Linked DNA regions of Homo sapiens: region 2 is linked to region 1. A link means that fine-mapping ties the variant in region 1 to the expression of a gene that starts in the linked region. Tissue or cell type: monocytes after Pam3CSK4. Region 1 holds a variant in brackets; the other region holds the start of a gene. All regions are shown on one strand. Distances are between the middles of the regions.

What was found. PIP is the estimated chance that this variant, and not a neighbour inherited with it, causes the effect.
Region 2: it holds the start of PREX1, and the variant in region 1 is fine-mapped to the expression of PREX1 in monocytes after Pam3CSK4 (Quach 2016, PIP 0.95).

Annotation. Positions count from the first base shown.
Region 1 is chr20:48,752,218-48,761,559 of GRCh38, reverse strand. The region is part of intron 1 of PREX1 (phosphatidylinositol-3,4,5-trisphosphate dependent Rac exchange factor 1); the gene reads left to right. Among named protein-coding and RNA genes, the nearest start is that of PREX1, 71 kb to the left of the region's middle. RefSeq lists enhancers at 110-159, 2,947-3,026, 2,540-3,534 and a silencer at 690-739. The variant C/T (reference allele first, on the strand shown) is at 4,587.
Region 2 is chr20:48,824,073-48,833,414 of GRCh38, reverse strand. PREX1 (phosphatidylinositol-3,4,5-trisphosphate dependent Rac exchange factor 1) reads left to right here and starts at 5,416. Exons shown (of 40, transcript NM_020820.4): 1 at 5,416-5,773. The coding sequence starts at 5,555. RefSeq lists silencers at 4,763-5,442, 5,853-5,922 and an enhancer at 9,169-9,258.

The DNA of each region.
Region 1 (9,342 bases):
CTTCCTCTCCCGATGTGGTGGGGAACGGGGCGGGGTGGGGTGAGAACTGGGCACCTTTTACCAGGGCCTAGAATCTGGGTGGGGGTGGGAGTAGTCTACTCTAGATGATTGATTGACTAATTAATTAAACACATCCTTTTCGAGGGTCTGCTGTGTGCTGGGTCCAATCCTAGGCTCTGGGACACCACAGTGACCTAGACAGACAAACATCCTTGCCTTCCTGGAGGTGAGACTCAAGTGGGCTAGATGGATAATAGACTGATATAAACACACATAATGTCCATGGTGACAGGTGCTGTGAGGAAAACAGAGCAGGGATAGACGTTTTCGATAGGATTGTCCTGGAAAGACTGAATGTGCCTCGGGGCCTTTGCCCCGGCTGTTGACCCTGCCCATGATGCTGTGTCCTCCGATACACGCAATGCTGTTTGCTCCCTGTGTCTGCTCAAATGCCATCTTCTCAGAACGGCTTTCTCTGAACAGCTCCTTGAAATGGCATTCCCACCTTATCCTTCTCTGTTTTCTTACCCTGCTTTAGTTTTCTTTGTAGCAATCATTCCTACCTGCCATTTTATTTTAAAATCAGTGTATAGTCTGTCTCTGCCACTACTTTGTGAAGGTGGGGAGTTAGTCTGATTTGTTCATTCACTGATGTGTCATTGGCTCTTAGCGCAGTGCCTGGCACATAATAGGTGTGCAGTAAGTATTTGCTGACTACACAGGCGAATGTAAGAATGCATAAGTCCTTCCGTGGCAGGGTCATGGCTTATATCTGTGTCTCCAGCACCCAGCTCGGTGCCTGGTGCACGGCAGGCCCTGGTTAACACTTGCTGGGATGGTTGGTACTCGGAGAGGACTTGTCCCCCTAGAATATCATCACAAGCAACTTCCTGCCCCTTTCCTAGTCCAGCCTCCCTCTCCTGGCTCAGCCTTTCTGCCACTTTTTCCAGGAAGTGTTTGTAGTTACAAAGTGTTCACCTGCATCATTTCACTTAAACCTCAACAACTACTCCTCCCCCCCTTTTTGTTTGGTCCAGGAAATTGACTCAGAAGTGTGGTGACTTGCTGAAGTCACGTGGTTGGCAGTCAGCAAGGAGGATGGGGCAGGGCAGAGGGGTGCGCTGGTGGTGATGAGGATGTGGGGGGCTCTGCAGTTTATAAAGCCTTCCCCTTCTCATCTCACCTCAGGAGACTCGGAAGCAGGCAGTCTATAATAATAGAGCTATTTGCAGGATGGAAAAAACTAATAAAAATAAGTAAAAATAGTGTGGGATAAATGTGAGTGTGCTTGGTGCATGTAGAAGCCCTACAGATGTGGTTGATCCAAATCCAGGTTTCCTTAGGAAGCACAGTGGGTTCTGTCTACCTGCACCAGGGCTTGGACTCCCTGCAGACACTCTAGAAACTCAAGATGGGGAGATCATAATAGCCAATGCTTTTTTTTTTTTGAGGCAGGGTCTTGCTTTGTCATCCAGGCTGAAGTGCAGTGGTGCGATCTTGGCTCACTGCAACCTCTGCCTCCTAGGCTGAAGTGATGCTCTCACCTCAGCCTCTCGAGTAGCTGGGACTACAGGTGTGCGCCACCACACCTGGCTATTTTGTTTGTTTGTTTGTATTTTTGGTAGAGATGAGGTTTTGCCGTATTGATTGATTGCTCGAACTCCTGGGTTCAAGCAATCAGCCTGCCTCGGCCTCCCACAGTGTTAGGATTACAGGTGTGAGCTCACAGGTGTGAGCCTGGCCAATAATAGCTAATGTTTTTTGAGCACCTGCTATGCACCAGGGACCATTCAAGTGCTTGTTATGTGTGTTAGCTTCTGTAATTCTCATTGTAATCCTGTGTACTCATTTTATCCCCCGTTATAGAGGAGGAAATGGAGGCAGAGAGAATAAATAATTTACTTCAGGTCTTAGAGCTTGTAAGCAGCAGAGCTGGGATTTGAGCCCATTTAAATGCTTTGCCTGTAGTATTTCTTTTTTTCTTTCTTTTCTTTTTTTTTTTTTTTTTTTGAGATGGAATCTTGCTCTGTTACCCAGGCTGGAGTGCAGTGGTGCGATTTCAGTTCATTGTAACCTCTGCTTCCCAGGTTCAAATGATTCTCCTGTCTTAGCCTCGCAAGTAGCTGGGATTACAGATGTGAGCCACCATGGCTGGCTAATTTTTGTATTTTTTGTAGAGACAGGGTTTCACTATGTTGGTCAGGCTGGTCGCGAACTCCTGACCTCAGGTGATCCACCCATCTCAGCCTCCCAAAGTGCTGGTATTATAGGCGTGAGCTACCGCGCCTGGCCTGCCTGCAGTATTTCATATCAGCCTCACAATAGCCCATGAAGTCAGTAGTTTTATGGTCCCCATCCATGTTATAGATGAGGCCCAGAGAGATGGAGTCAGTTGCCTAGGTCACAGAGCAGTAGGTGGCAGGGGCAGGATTTGAACCAGGTGGCTAGTTCTAGCCTTTGAGCCTCATCCACTCTTACATACTGCTTGCTTAGGAGATACAGTGCCCTTCTAGCAAGGAGTAGAGAGAGTTTCTAAGGGTAGGGAGGGCTTCTGAGAGTTGGGGCATGGGAGGAGGAGGTGGAATGCTGGCCATATCTTTGGCCTCCGCAGGGGAATGTGTATGGGTTCCCCGCAGATGCAGCCTGGATTCAGGTGGGCTAGATGGATAATAGACTGATAATGAACACACATAATGTCCATGGTGACAGGTGCTGTGAGGAAAACAGAGCAGGGATAGGCGTTTTCGATAGGATTGTCTTGGAAAGACTGAATGTGCCTTGGGGCCTTTGCCCCAGCTGTTGACCCTGCCCGTGATGCTGTATCCTCAGATACACGCAATGCTGTTTGCTCCCTGTGTCTGCTCCACGTGAAACCTGCCTCCACGTCTGACCGGGGACTGCCTGTGGTTCCGCAGCCACCTCCTCTGACCTTCAGCCCTGCACATGTAGAGATTTTCCCCATCAGCTCAGAAGTATTTTGGTGTTTTAACAGGCAGCGAGGCCGTCCTGGTGTGTATTAGGAGAACATCTGCTGAAGTGCCTGGCCTGTGTGGCTGCGGTGCTGCAAAGCCCTGTCTTTCACCCCCCCAAGCTCGGGGGGGCCCTACACCCTCTTTCTTTTTGAGGCTGCATTGCGACACCTCAACCACTCCAGGGCACACCAGAGGGACGCTCCACTGCCAGCACCTGCGCTCCTCTGCCTGATGGCTTTGTCTGCTCTGAGCTGCTCTGTCACTTTCAGGGAAGATGGGGAGTGCCAGGATCACCCCCACTGCCCTTAAACTAGTGACAGACAGGGCTGATGTACAGACTCCCTGGCCTCCTCACTCCCTGAGGGTGGCTGTGAGGTGTGCGTTCCACACGGTCTGTCTGGGGCCTCATGGTGGTAACTTGCTTGGTCTCATACCCTTCGTGGGCTGCCTTCCCTTCTTGGTTCCACCTCCCTGTTGGTGTTTCCAGGGACCATCTCCCACCTCCCACCTCCCAAAGAAACTACTTGTACTCCACTTCTTGCCTCAGGGTCTGCTGCATCTGGGGAACCACCCCAAGGGTCCTGTCATGGTACACCCGCTAAGATGCACCCACAGCACACACTCCCTGCATTCTCTGTGCACATAGCCACAGGCAGAGTTGATTGGTAATTTTGTAGACATTTAAATCAAGATTTATTCTTTTTGACAATGCAGTTTTCCTTTTGTATTTGGAGCCAATGCACGTATTTTTAAAGGCCTCCAACATTTCTATAGGTCCAAGGAATGGTGCCAAGGAAATGTGCCCAGGGAAGGGGCCTGGTCTGAGCTGGTCCAGGGGCTACACGGAATTGAAAGTGCCCACCCCTTCACTGGACATTTACTGAGGACTTATTGGGCACCTCCTGTGATCCTGGCTGGATCCTGGGGGCCGGGGGCTCCCACCGTGGGCAGAGGCAACAAGTTATTTACAAGCAGTGTCAGATTTAATCCTCATGTCAGCGACTTGCAAGGTGAGGCTCCATTACACAGATTTTATAGATGAGGCAACTGAGGTGCGAGGCTTGGCCGACTCCAGAGCCTAATGTGTGATTCATGCCCTGTTTTCCTCTTTCCTAAAAAGGGGATGCAGTAGCCCACCTTGTGGGATTGTTATGCAGGACGAACATGCTGACCATCAGTCACCTGCTGAACCCCTTGTTACTGGGCATCTGCTCTGTGTCCAGTCCAGCACGGTTCTAGGTCCAGTGGGTGGACACTGCCCAAACAAGCTGCCACCCTCCTGGGACTGACTTTGTAGGGGACACAGGAACTGTAAGTGAAGAAACAGCTCAGTGCAGGTGGAGGGCAGTGCTGTGGGGGATGGAGGAGGATGAGATACAGTGTGCAGGGGAATGGGTGTCTGTTTCAAATGGAGCAGTCGGGGAAGGCCTCAGAAGAACTGGCATTTGATTCTAGAGGGGAATTGATATGGTTTGGCTGTGTCCCCACCCAAATCTCACCTTGAATTGTAGCTCCCATAATTCCCATGTGTCATGGGAGGGACCTGGTGGGAGGTAATTGAATCATGGGGGCGGGTCTTTCCCATGCCGTTCTCGTGATAGTGAGTAAGTCTCA[C/T]GAGATCTGATGGTTTTATAAAGGGGAGTTCCCCTACACAAGCTCTCTTGCCTGCCGCCATGTAAGACATAACTTTACTTCTCATTTGCCTTCTGCCTTGATTGTGAGGCCTCCTCAGCCATGTGGAACTGTGAGTCAATTAAACCTCTTTATAAATTACCCAGTCTCTGGTATATCTTTATTAGCAGTGTGAGAACAGACTAATACAGGAATGAATTGAGGGTGGGGCCCTGCAGATATCTGGAGAAAGAGTCTTCCAGGCAAAGGGAACAGCAAGTACAAAGGCCCCGGGGTGGATGGTGCCTTGGTATATTCCCAGGAGGCCTCAGTTGTAGGTTCTTTGTATGCTTTCAGGAAGAAATTAGCCTGTTAAAGATACAATTCAAAGCAATATGTTTGTGCTGTGGACTATATAATGAAATGAGTTATAGATACATATATGGACTTTGTAAATGTGCCATGGGAGTAAAGGAGTAGTAAGTCTGACTTTGTAAAAAAAAAAAAGCTATCTCTTCCCAGTCCTCTCAGAGTATGTCTGTGACTGAATGAGTCAGCGGTGGAATCCTTGGGGAGGATGTTTCAAATCCAAAATTTGGGTCTTTTGGGAAAGCCTCAGTTGGTTCTGAGCCAGTGGCTCTCTGTTTCTGGCCCCTGGCATGGACGTGATGAAGGAATGCTAGGTGGGAACAGAGTGGAGAGGGTTTTAATCAGCCTGGGCAGTGGTGTGGGCTCTGGGTGGTGGACATTCTTGTGTTCTGGCCCAGGCTGTGGAAGCTCCAGGCCAGCTTGTGGGGGTCCCCAGGTTTCCAGAGTTGACTCAGAGAAGGAGGGCTGGTCGGCAGCTCAGAGGCTCTTCTGCAGAAGGTAAATCTTTCCATCTCATATTTGCCTTGCCGCTGCTCTGTTCCCCACTGGCGGGCACTGCCTTCCCTGCACAGGGATACACATATCCAAGGAGGAGAAGACAGAAGCCAGGGGTCCTGATGATTGGGGCAGGTGATGGGGTGGGCGAGAGAGAGCCTGTGTGTTTAGTACCCCTCCCATCCAGAAAAATAAAAACATGCATTTATGTTAAAAATGACTTTTGCTTAAAAAGTAGCATGTTCATTGTAGAAATCTGGAAAGGGAAATAAATGAAGAAAGAAGAAAATGGAAATTCTTTAGAATGCCCCTCTGTCAGTTAGGATTAGGTTCAGTGGCTTGTGATAAAACCCAAATAACAGTGTCTTAAATGTGATGAAAGTTTATTTCCTTATTCTGTAATTATAGGTGACCCAGGGCGGATATGTTGGCTGTACCATCACTAGGAACATAAGTGCCTACTGAATGCTGCTCTGTTTTCCCCAACACGTGGCTTCTACCTCATGGTATAAGATGTCTGCTTCACTTCCAGGCATCGCATTTGCAATCCAATCAGTAGGAAAAGGGAATAGCAGAAGAGAATCCCTACCCATTCCTCCCCCAACCCACAAGGATACTTCCAAGATGTTGTACATAATATGCCATGTATGCTGTACTGACCTGAACTTAGTTGCATGCCCACACCTAGCTGCAAGGGATGCTGGGAAATACAGTCCTTATTTTTAAATCTGGAGTTCTGTTTCTAAAGGAAAAGGAGAGAATGATATTGGGGGACAGCTAGTAATTTTGGCCACATTCCTACATAGTTTCTTGTAGTATGGGTATTTCCTTCCATACTTCATTTTTCTATGCCTAGGGAGAGAGAATTTATTTAACCAACAGTGAGATTATATTTTATGTACTTGTTTGTAACTTGATTTTTTTTCCTAGTTAAGGATACATCAACAGTCCTTTTCCGTGTTATTAAATAGACTTCTGCAAACTATTTTTAGCATGATCATTCCTTGTTGAGCTGGATGGTAATTTATTTAACTAAACCCCCAGTGATGGAATTATAAATCAGATATTGAAGGTAAAGCTTCATGCCACATATGAGATTTATTTTCCCCTGTAGGATAAATACCCAGAACTTGGATGGATGGAGCATAGGATTTGGGCATTTGAAGGGGTCATTGGGCAATTGGGGAGCTCCCCAGACTCTGGGCTGTGTGGGGCGGCTTGCAGCAGGCTGTGTAAGCCCCCTTCTGCTGTTATAGCGATTTTATTATCATCGCTCAGATTCCAAGGCCCTTGCTGTTCCATGACACTGTGCTTCCGACTCCCCGCCACCCAGATCATGTTGGGGATGGGGTCCTCAGGGCACCCCCTTTTGTCTTGGCTGTGTTCTGGAGCTCCCCCCACCCACCCCCACTCATCGCTTCCCTTTGCTCCCAGCCCATACCCTGGCCCTCTCAAGTTTCACCATATGTCTGGTGAGGTCACCCCAGCCACGGCAGAGGTGTCCTTGGGGGCAGTCGGGCCCCCTCCCCAAGCAGATCAGGTTGCCGGCATCAGTCTCAGGGAGTGACTTCAAGGCCTCTTTCTGTCCTTTTTATCTCCAGGGAGAGATTTATCCTCCCCAGGCAACAGCAGCCATGGGTTCCAGGCAGATGGCAGCTCCCCAGGGGCACCCCTAAGGGCAGCTGCTACCTGTTTTAAAGGCTGATGCGGTTCATTGTCCACAGTCACTCACTGATGGCGCGTGATGGAGACTGTCTGGGTTTAAGGCCCAGCTCCTTCACTTGCCAGCCGTGTGGCTTTAAATAAGGTCTTTACTGCGCTGGGCCTTAGGCTCTTCTGTAGAATGGACATAGTAATAACAATGCCTGCCTCCTCGAGTTTGAGGATTAAAACACCTAGAGCAGCACCTGCACATAATGAGGCCTAAAGGTGTAGTTAGTGAGTTAAAAAGGTGTTCTTATTCTAGTTGCCTCTCCCAGCTCGATATCAGCTTACTTTCTGGAGCCTGTTCTCAGTTTCTCCCTGTCTCTCCCATCCTTTCTCCACATACCAGTCTCTCTTGAGCACCTGCTGTGTGCCAGCCTCTGTCCCAGGCGCTGCGTAGACGGCCAAGGAAATTGACTTCTGCCCTGAGGGAGCTGATACTTTAGTGAGGGAGATGATACTGAATGATCAAACCTATCCATACTTAATTGATAAGAGCACAGCCAATAGCGGAGACGTCTGTGAAGGGTAACAGGGTTCAGGTGGCTATGTAGTGGGTGAGATCCTCTCTTATATGGGTCCAGGGGTGGCCTGTGAGAGGAGGGACCTCTCCTGCCAATTGAATGTCTTGGGAAAAGCTCTGTAGGCAAAGAACAGCACGTGCGAAGGCCTGGATGCTGGGGGCCTGGTGTGTTCAAGAAACAAAAAGGAGACCAGTGTACCTGCAGCTGAGCCAGTGGGGTGAGAAGAGCCCGCATTAGACAGTATTTGGGCGGTGGAAGAGGTTGGATTTTTTTCTAGGTTTTAATTAGAGCCTTTTCTGAGGCAAGGATTTCTTGACCTTGTCACTGTTGTTTGCGGTCAGCTGTGTCTTTGTGGGGTTGTCCTGTGCACTGTAGGGTGTTTCGCAGCATCCCTGGCCTCTACACACTAGATGCCAGGAGCACCCCTGTCCTCAGTTGTGACAACCCAAAATGTCTCTAGACATTGGCACATGTCTTCTAGGGGGTAAAATCACCCCCAAGTTGAGAACCACTGGGCTCAGGTTAGGGCGACAGGTGAGACCTGGCCTGGCATCGGGAGACCTGGTTCTAATCTGTGTTTTGTCACCAGTTTGCTGTTTGACCTCAGACCAGTGTCTCATACTCTTGGTATCTCCATTAAGTGGGAGCTTGTTGGAGATGGCAAACTCATCATCCTTCTAACCCTCTCCCTGCCACATCCATGGCAGACATCACTAATCAATTATGATGTGGCTTCCTGCTCAGTCTAGAGCTCTGGGGACCCTGGAAACACTCAGGCTGGGAGCTGAGTAAACAGTCTCTCTGGTCCTTCTCTTATGCCCCAGAAGACCTGGATATACATTTAGAGGAACTTGAACGCCTGGGCTCGAGGAAACATGTGCATCACCTAGAGGAACTTGTATACCCATACCCCAGTCGACGAGAGTATACAGCTGAAAGAACTTACACCTGAGTGCCATTGTTTACAGTAAGGATGTTTGAAACAAGTGTCTGCAGCATGGCAGTGGTTACTTCATGCTGTGATTTTGACTAGTAAGCAATGAAATGAACAACTTGAGGTCTGTCTTATTGTGGATTCCCCAAAGAACATGACCCGAGACTGATTCAAGGGCAAGTAGCATACTTGGGAGGTCACCCCAGGAAGCATCAATAGGAGAGTGGGGGAGTGAGGCAGGGAGGAGAAGGCAGCCAAGAAAGGTGTGTCATCAAGCGGGTTACCATGGGGGCCACCGGAGCTGAATCCATCAAGGCACTCGGGGAGATAGTGTCCATCGAGTGCCTCAGTTTCCTCATCTGTCTTTTCATGCCAGGTCCTGCTGGCCATCACTGAGGGCTGCTCCCAGGCAGTCTTACTTCTTCCGCACCTCTGGCCTGCCCTGCACATGAGAGCGGGGTCTTCAGGCCAAGAGATGCAGGTGCTGGCAGCTCGATGTGGTGTGGGGTAAGGGTGGGGTCTGGATAGCAGATGTTGCCCAGTGTACATATCAACATGGGTAAATGTGGAAGACATGATGTTGAGTGAGAAAATCAAGTTGCTGAAAGCATGCTACTTATAAAAATGTTGTGAACATGCAAAACAATATTCTCTCTTGCTTATAGATGCACACAGCTTGGTAAGTGGGCAGAGGCATGCGTGGGAATGAGGAGCACCAGCTCCAAGTACCTTG
Region 2 (9,342 bases), 72 kb before region 1:
CAAAATGGGATGTTATACATTTTATTATCTTTTAATACAAGAAGTCTAGAGGCAGGGTGGTTCCATGGTTGGTTAATTCAGGATCTCAGTGACATCAAAGATCCAGATTCTTTCCATCTGTCATTTTGCACCTTCAGTTAGTTAGAAGTGTCCTATCTCAGGGTCTCAAGATGGCTGTCATAGCTCCAGACATCATGGCTTCATCCACTTACAATAGCAAACACCCATCCAAGGATCGGGCAGCATACTATGCACTTTGGATCTATTAAATATTTTAACCTGCACAACAACGCTGTGAGGTAGAAGCTCTTACTGACCCCATTTTACAGATATGGATATTGAAGCCCAGAGAGGTTAAGTCACTTACACAAAGTGACACAATTAGGAAGCAGTGGGACTGGGATTTGAAGCTGAGAAGCTGGTCTCTGGTGCTACAACAATGTCCAAAGGCTGGAGAAGAAGTCGTGCATGTTGGTGGCAGAGTGGGATTGGAACTGAGGGTCCTAGATGTTTTCCTTTCTGCTTCCTCAAAGCAGTGTCTCCAATGCCTCCTGGCAAAAGTATGATTTGGCAAAGCTGTGGAGCCCTGACTTAATTGGATACCTATTATGCTTAAATCAGACCTTGAACCAGAGCCCCCTGGAGAATGTGCTTCCAACAGCAAGGCTTCCCTTAGAGACGTTTTGACTTGGGCAGCTGGGGGTAGCTCAACTACTAGGAAGACGATTATATTTTGGTGGGAAGAAGTGAACCCTGGGCTGTGTGTCCAGCGTTGATTTGAGTTGTCCAGCTGCTCTAATTCCAAGGGTGGAGAGGCCTCCCTCTTCTTCTCAGACAGCTGCTCTTGGTTCTCAGAATGAGGAACAGCCCTGCTCTGGGCTGCTGGTCTGACTTTTGAGAACTCATTTGCATTTGGGAAATGATGGCACCCTCGGGCAGTGCAGTAACTCACTTCTCAATTGGCTCATTCAACTTGGGATGGGAAAGAAAATCACTTGTTTTTCCTTGCTTTAACTTAATTAGTTTTCCTTTTAAACAGAGCTTGGGAAGGGGGCCTTCAAATCCTCAGCCTGCAGAAGCTGACAGGGGCTTGTCAGGGAATAAGAAACTCTGATGTTTCCAAGCAGCAGAATCTTCTCCCCCTCAACTGTGAAACTTATGTAACAGAAACGAAATGGTATTTCCCACTATTTGCAAAGTACATGGCAACGGAAACTCTAAAATTGTCCCTGCAAAAGAGAATTTCCCTATCATTATCATCACTTTTTTTTTCTTCCCCCTGAACTGCAATTTTTTTTTTTTCTTCTTCCTCCCTGTTCTTTTTGAGAACGTTACCCAGCTGCCGGCTGTTTCAGGCCCTGCCCTGACATACACATGAGACAGATAGGCTCCCCACTAGATATTCCGGACGGGTGATGGGGAAGAAGGGAATAGAGGTCAAAGTTGAAATGGGGATAGGAAGAGATCTACTCCAGCCTGACTGCTTAGTCATGTTTGGTTTAGGGAGTTGCCTATGCCAGGATTAGCTGGGAGGCAGCCAGGTTTTGAAGAGAGGGAGTCCCCACTGATCCCGCCAAGGCTGAGGCCCCTGGCTGAATCCTGATGGCTGAATCATGACACTGGGGTAGTGACCTGAGGCAGAGTCCTGGAGGTGCCACCAACCAATGGTGCTTCCCCAGGCCCATCCCTTGCAGGCCTTAGAGAAGCTGAAAGGACCTTGTTTATTTATTGTCCTTCTCTCCCTGCTCTTGACTGGACACACCAGGAAGCCAGGGACCTTATCTGTTCTGTTCACTGCTGTATCCCTGCCTGGAGCATAGGAGGCCCTCAGTATATAATAGTTGAATGCATGAGAGGAGGAACTTGTCTTCATCCTCACCTATCCCCCTTGCTGGAATAATGCCGGCAGCACAAGGGCCTCAGCTGTTGGGGTGCTCAGTGCTGCAGCCTCAGGACCCCGCCCAATGCCCAGTGTGTAGTAGATGCTTGTGGCCGACACTTATAGATGCCCACCATGCTAGCTCCTCTTCTCTCTTGACAACAGATCTCCAAGTTGTCTGGGCAGCCTTGTGCCAGGGGACTAAGCAGGTCTTTTCTAAGTTGATGGTGGCAATCTATGCCCTCGGTCAGGGACTTTTCAAGGGTGACCATGGCTTCTAGTGCTGACCTGCTGGGAGCTTAAGTTTATTCCCCCAAAGAGAGAAGCACAGAGGAGACAGAGTCTTCTTCGTACTTTTCTTTCCTTCATTGGAGGTGTGTGAGGAGGCAATGTTGCTGTTTCAGCAGCCATTTTGTGCCTCTGAGGCCCTAAAGCTTGGGAGGAAAAGCCACCATGCTGAGGATAGGAGGGTCAAAGGTGCCATGATCCTTGATGACATCATGAAGTCCTACACCAGCCTCAGGAACCAACTGCCTCTGGACCTCTTGCTAAATAATGTCCTTATGCTTTAAGCTATCAATAGCCCAGTTTTCTTCTCCTTGCAGCCAAATGCATCCTATTAGATTCAGCACTCAATCCACGCATTGTAAAAGACTTCACTTATTGAGCACCTACTGTGTGCTCTAAGCACCCTCCATGTATGCACTCAGGAACCTTGCAACGACTTTATGATGTAGGTACTGATATTATTCTTAGTTCACAGATGAGGAAAGCAAGGCACAGAGAGCTTAAGTATGTTACTAAACGCTGTATTATCTTTTAGTGTCATCATTACCACTGGGGATGGGGATGGAAGGGGAAAAAGATCCCAGCAGAATCTGAGGAAGTAACGATGTATAAAACATTGGGGTGGGCCAGAGATGGGACCCATCCACAACGTGGAAATGTTTTTTGGCAGTGTGGGCCAATTCTTGGGTGAAATGTGGGATTTGTGTGTAAACTTGAGGCTAACCTTCCTTGGTCATGGGCTGAGAAGGGAACTAACATTTGTTGAGCACCTACTCTGTGCCAGCTATGTGTGTCAGGTACTTTACATCAGTGGTTCTCAACAGGGGGCAATTCTGTCCCCAGGGATATCTGGCAATGTCTGGAGACACTTTTTCTGTTTATTTTTGAGGCAAGGCTTACTCTGTTGTCCAGGTTGGAGTGCAGTGGTGTGATCACAGCTTACTTGCAGCCCTGACCTCCTGGGCTCAAGCAAGCTCCCCACCTCAGCCCAGCAGCTGGTACTACAGGTGTGTGCCACCATGCCCAGCTAATTTTTAAAATTTTTTTGTAGAGACAGGGTCTTGCTATGTTGCCCAGGCTGGTCTTGAACTTCTGGGATCAAACAATCCTCCCACTTGGACCTCCTAAAATTCTGGGATTAGAGGCCGGAGCCACTGTGCCCAGCCTGGAGACATTTTTGATTCTCAGATTGGGGAGGGAGTGCTACTGGCATCTAGTGGGTAGGGGACGCGGCTAAATGTCCTGAAATGCACAGGACACGCCCCTCCCCCAACAAAGAGTTATGTGACTCCAAATGTCAATAGTCCCAAGGTTGAGAAAGTCTGTATTGCATAGAATTCGCTCTCACAAAGACTCCCCTTTTACAGATTAGACGACTGAGGCCCAGAGAAATAACGTGTCTTGGCCAAGGTTACCCTGCCAGTTGGATTTGGACTGGGATACAAATGCAAGCCCGCTTCATTCCATGGTCCATTATGTTCCAGCCATGTTCTCCCCTCGTGGTAGACAGAATTAATTTAAAGATGAGGAAACGGAGGCTCAGAAAGGTACCGTGAACAGTTTAAAGTCACAAAGCAGAGATACTCCAGAGGCCTTTATTAGGAATAAAAATATAAATAAAAAACCAGCTACCTTTGGACACAATTGACTCCACTACCCAAGCGTGACAGGCTCACCTATCTCATGTCCTTTACTCCCTGCCCAGGGGAACTTCACTCAGCCCAAGGCCCAGATCAAATGCTACCTTGCCCATGATCCCAAAGAAAGAAGTCAGAGAGGGCAGAAGCCACCCCATTCTCTCCCTGTGTCCTTAGGCACTTACAGTATTGAGAGGCCAATGGGAGGAAAATCCTAGGCTTTTGGAACAGGAATAAATAAGCAATGTTTCTGTCCATAAAATGACTACAGTCTAGAGGCGGATACTATGTGGATCACTTTATCCCCTGCAGAGACGATACAATCTCTGGTCCGGAAACACGGGTGATTAGGGATTGTATGGGCCATTTGAGAGTGGGGCCAGGCTTAGAGGGCCGTTCACACATGCAATAATAGTAAGAACAAACATTTACAGAGAACTTTCTAGGTGTTGGGCTTCACACATGCAATAATAGTAAGAACAAACATTTACAGAGAACTTTCTAGGTGCTAAGTACTTCCCATGGAACCCCGGGGAGGACCTTGGAGCTAGGTACCATGATCGTTCCCGTTATACTGATGAAAACACTGAGGATCTTGAAGCAAGGAAACCAGCCCAAGGCCACCCGGCCAGCAAGTGGGGAGCTAGGATTTGAACCTGAGCAGCTGACTCTAGGCCCCAGAACTTCCTCCCCTCTCCATACCTTCCGATAAGGCGGGTGATGATCAACATTGCCCAGAGCAACCTGACAAGAAGCTGGGTTTCCCAAGGCCTTATCCCATGGGGTGGGTGGATGGAAGGGGGAGCAGGCAGGGTACCTGCCACTTGATCAATAACTCAAGAGCAGGTAATAATTTCTTCTGGGAAAGGTGGAAAGGGCAGGGTCAGGGGGCAAAGAAGTTCAGAAAGAAAAGGAAGGAAGGAAAGAGAGAGATGGGAAAGGAAACGGGAAAGAGAAAAGTGAGAGCGAGCGCGCGCCACGCATGTTCCTTCCCAAGGTCGTGGTAGCACCGAGGGCACCGCGAGGGCCCGGCGTTCCCGGGAGGGGCCGTCACTGCCCAGAGAGGGGCCGTCACTGCCCAGGCAGCGGTCGCCCCTGACTTCCCGGGGCCGCGGAGGCGCGCGTGGCGGGGCTGGCTTGCCCCCGAGCGGCTCCGCAGCGAGCTTTCCCAGCCCGGTGTTTACTTGGCCCGAGCAGCGGCCGGACCTGCAAGCAGGAGCCTGCGCGCGGCGGGTGTCGCGTGTGCCGGGTGGGAGTGGCGTAGCCCGCGGTGACTGCGGGTTGGGGGGGCGCCACGCGTCCGGGCGCGGAGTTGGTACGCTCGGTTCGGCGTGCGCGCGGCCTCGGACTCCCGGCTCCGCGGGGCCCTTCCGGAGGCTCCCGCCCGACCCCCGAGCTTCCGACGGAGGCGCCGAGCGCCGCGCCGCGTCCCCAGGGGCCCCGTGCACGCGCAGAGCGCCTCTGCGGCCGAGCGCGGCGTGGCACTTGGCAGACGGTCCCTGGCGCGGGGGCGGGGGGCCAGCCGTCTGGGAGCCCCGAGGGCCGCCCCCTCCCGCCCCTCGCCCGGCCCCCGCGCGCTGCCTCCGCCCCCGGCCCAGCCGCCCGGCCCCCAGTCCCGCCCGCCGCGCCGGGAGCCCGGCCCGCCGCTGAGCCCGGCCCGCCGGCGCGCCCCGTCCGGGATGGGGCGCCTGGACGCCTGAGTTGCCGCTCGGCGCGACGGAAGGAGCCGGCGCCGCGCGGCCGCGCTAGAATGGAGGCGCCCAGCGGCAGCGAGCCCGGCGGCGACGGGGCCGGGGACTGCGCCCACCCGGACCCCCGGGCCCCTGGCGCCGCGGCGCCCAGCTCCGGCCCCGGCCCGTGCGCGGCCGCCCGGGAGTCCGAGCGCCAGCTGCGCCTCCGCCTCTGCGTCCTCAACGAGATCTTGGGCACCGAGAGGGACTACGTGGGCACCTTGCGCTTCTTGCAGTCGGTGAGTGTCGCTCGGGAGCTTGGGGACAGCTTTCCCTCCAGCCGCTCGCCCCGCTGCGGTCCCCACAACCTGTGGCCGTGGTCCCCGTGGGTGGAGAATTGCCTCGGGGGCGCCCCGCAGGGCGCGCGGAAAGCGGGGGGGATCCGAGCTCCTCCAGAGCTGTCGCGTCGCCTCCCTCCCTGGCCGGCGCACGGTCCTGCTCCGACCGGGGCTCTCCCGCACTCCACTTCCCCGCGGCGCGCGCTGCCCTTTTGTCTTTTCTTCCCCGTCCCCGCCTTTCAAATAGTTTTAAAATTAGTTACATCCGCGATGCAGGGGCTTGGGGACCCCGGCGGCGCCGGGAGCTGGCGCTCCTGCGTCTTTTTCCCAGGAATAACTACGCGCCCGGTGCACCACTCATCTAGGACATACCGTAGGAGCCCCAGAGCCCAACGTCCCTGCGCGTTGATGGAGTAGGATAAAACCTGAAGCTCAGAGGAGGGGCGGGGATTGACAGAACCCCAGGGTAGAATCCCCCATGCACAGGTTTTTGCTGGAGTTCGGGGAGAGTGGGTTTCGAACTCAAAACTCGGCAGTCCAGGCTCCCTAACTGCATCCACCCCCACCAACTCCCCATCTCCAAGTGCAAAACCACGGCCTCAGACTTTGTAAAATAACAACCGACCACTTACTATGTGCCAGACACCTTACATGTGTCATTAATTAGCAGGTTTAACCTTCACAGGCGGTCTATGAAGTAGGGACGAGTATTTCCCCCATTTTTAATTAAAAAAATTTTTTTTTGAGACGGAGTCTCCCTCAGTCACCCAGGCTGGAGTACAGTGGCGCAATCTCGGTTCACTGCAACCTCCGCCTCCCGGGTTCAAGCAATTCTCTTGCCTCAGCCTCCCGAGTAGCTGGGATTACAGGCACGCGCCAGCCACCACGGCCGACTAATTTTTGTATTTTTATCAGAGAGGGGATTTCACCATGTTGGCCATGCTGGTCTTGGACTCCTGGCCTCAAGTGATCCGCCGACCTCGGCCTCCAAAGTGCAGGGATTACAGGCGTGAGCTACTGGGTCCTGCCTCCTCCGTTTTTAAGATTGGGAAAGTTTAGCTCCAGAGGGGCCGGGTAGCTTGTCTGGGATCGCACAGCTGATTAAGTGGGGGTACTGGGCTTTGAACCGGGACTATCCCAGCTGGTGTTCTAAACCCCTATTCTATGCTGCATTTTTCTTTTGCTTTTTTTCTGTGAGAGGGAGGAAGGGGCCACTTCCCTACTCTCCTAGGAAGTGAGAAAAGTGGCCAGCGGGTGGAGGGGGTGGGACGGGGCAGAGCCTTGGATGGAAGTTAGGAGACTCTAAAGTCTTTAATCTCCATGCCTCCTGCTGGGGCCTCATTTACTCCCCTTCTCTGCTCTAGGAAGTCTTTTAATCCTGGTTCAGGAAGGGCTGGTGTGGGGGTGGCTCTTTCAAAGACCCTAGAGCCAGGCTTTGTAGCTCCTAGTCTTTGGGAGAAAGAGGGAGACTCTGGGGTCCTCTGGGGCTCCTCATGGCTTAGGGGTGCAGCTGAGGCTGTGTGAGATCAGAGTTCCAGCTCAGGGAGGAGACAGCCTTAGACTAGAGCCCTTCTGCCTGTGAAAGGAGATGTACTGGGGGCAGGGGGATGTGGGAGAGGGGGTTGTGCAGAAGCATTGAAAACCATTTGGCTAAAGGACCCTTCTAGGAAGGCCTGTAAGAATAAGGCAGGATTGGCTTTCTTTCCCATCCCTTCTTCTCTCACAGTTTCGGGGGTGGGGGGTGGGGGAAGAATTTGTTCTGTTAGAAGCTGGCAGTTTTTGAATTAAACATGTAGACAACCCTGGTGTCTCTGAGCAATGTCAAATTCTAGGGAACTCCTGACTTCTCCTTCTGAGCCACTCCATGCTCCTCTGCTTGGAAGAGAAACAGGAAATACAAACCAATTTTGATATTAATGGGAAAGAAAATATACCTCTCCCTCCCACGCCCCTGCCCTAGATGGTGTGTTTCATTTTAGAACAGATCTAGATTGTGTTTGAGTTAACTGTGGTTTTAAATCGTCCACGTGTAGAGTAGGAGGAAGCTGGAATAATGGAAATTGATTGGAGCCAACCATTCTTATTATTCAAGAAACAGGAAAAAAAAAGATTTCTCTACTTTCACATTATCTCCTTAACACTTTACATTTGCTGACTTCATCACATTTTTCTTTTTGTATCTGATGTGTCAGTTCTGAGATGAATTGGTTCTGACTTGGACATGTGTCTTGGACCAATCATGCTACGTGTCCTGACCTCAGTTTCCCCACCTGTGAAACAAGGAGCGGGGAATCCGGGCTTCCTTTCTGCCTGGGCCTTTTGTGTGTCCCCAAGCTGGTGCCAGAAACAGACGGATTGTGTAACCTGACCAGCCATACGTTGTTTGTGAGCCACAGGAGTCCTCTCTCATCTTGGCCCGTCAGGAATGGCCCCTAAACATCCCAAGGCATTTTCGTTTTCAAAACTAACCTGGGGCTTAGAGCTTCAGGAACTGCTAATTACCAAGGCTTTCCATGGTTGCAAGGCTGGCAGCCTCAGGTTGTGATTCTCTTCTGTCTTCCCACTCTCTCTTCTCAGCCTTTATATTTGCTAAGGGATTTTCCCTGCTGTCTCCTGGCTTGGAAGAATGCACGGTAATCCCTCCCTGCTTTTATTTCCATGTGGTTAGAGGCAGGCCTTAAAGGACCACCCTGGTCTCCGTGTGTCCTTGGTGTGAAGGTCCCATCGGCCCATGGAAACCGTGGAAAGTAACCCCCGTGATAGGGGCCATGTGTGGCTTCTGTCCTCAAGGAGAGGACGGTGTAGTGGAGGATGGCCAAATGGGTGTTTAAAAAAAACAATCCAAGTGCAAGGCTCTGGAGCCAGACTGCTTGAGGTTAAATCCTTGGACTTGTGACCTTGGGCAAACACCTTAACCTGTTTGAGCCTTATTTGTAAAAAGAGGGATGTTAATAGGTCCTATTTTATAGGTTTTTAAAGAAGATAAGTGAGTTATAGAAATTGATGTAAAGCACTTAGAACAGTGTCTGGCAGTAAGGTATATAAATATTGGTTATTATTGTTGTTGTAGGAAAATTAAATAATACAGATAATTAGGGTTGTGGGACTTCAGCATCCAGAGAGCAGGGGTGATCAGAGAGGGCTTCCTGGAGGAAGTGAGGTCTGAGTTAAGTCAGCACTGAGAGGAGGATGGGGGCTCTGAGTGAGTTTCCTTTTGACACCCTAAACTCCGGCCACAGGAACCAGTGGTTTTGTTTGGTTCCAGGCCGAGGGCTTTGTGGTTCCTTGAGAATCTTCCCATCTTTCCCCATCTCCTTCAGGAACTGGGTTGCACTCCCTCCCTCATCTCCAGGGAGTCCTCTGAGTTTGGTGTTTTGCGTGTGTTTATTAAATAATCATGAAAAGGCAAGGACAGCCCTTTCACAGAGATGCTGGATCGGTCTTGGGGGAAACAGTGCCTGGGGTTTTGACTCAGAACCTTGGCTCGAATCATTTCGAGGCCCTGGCTATGTGGGGTACTCCCCGTGTGC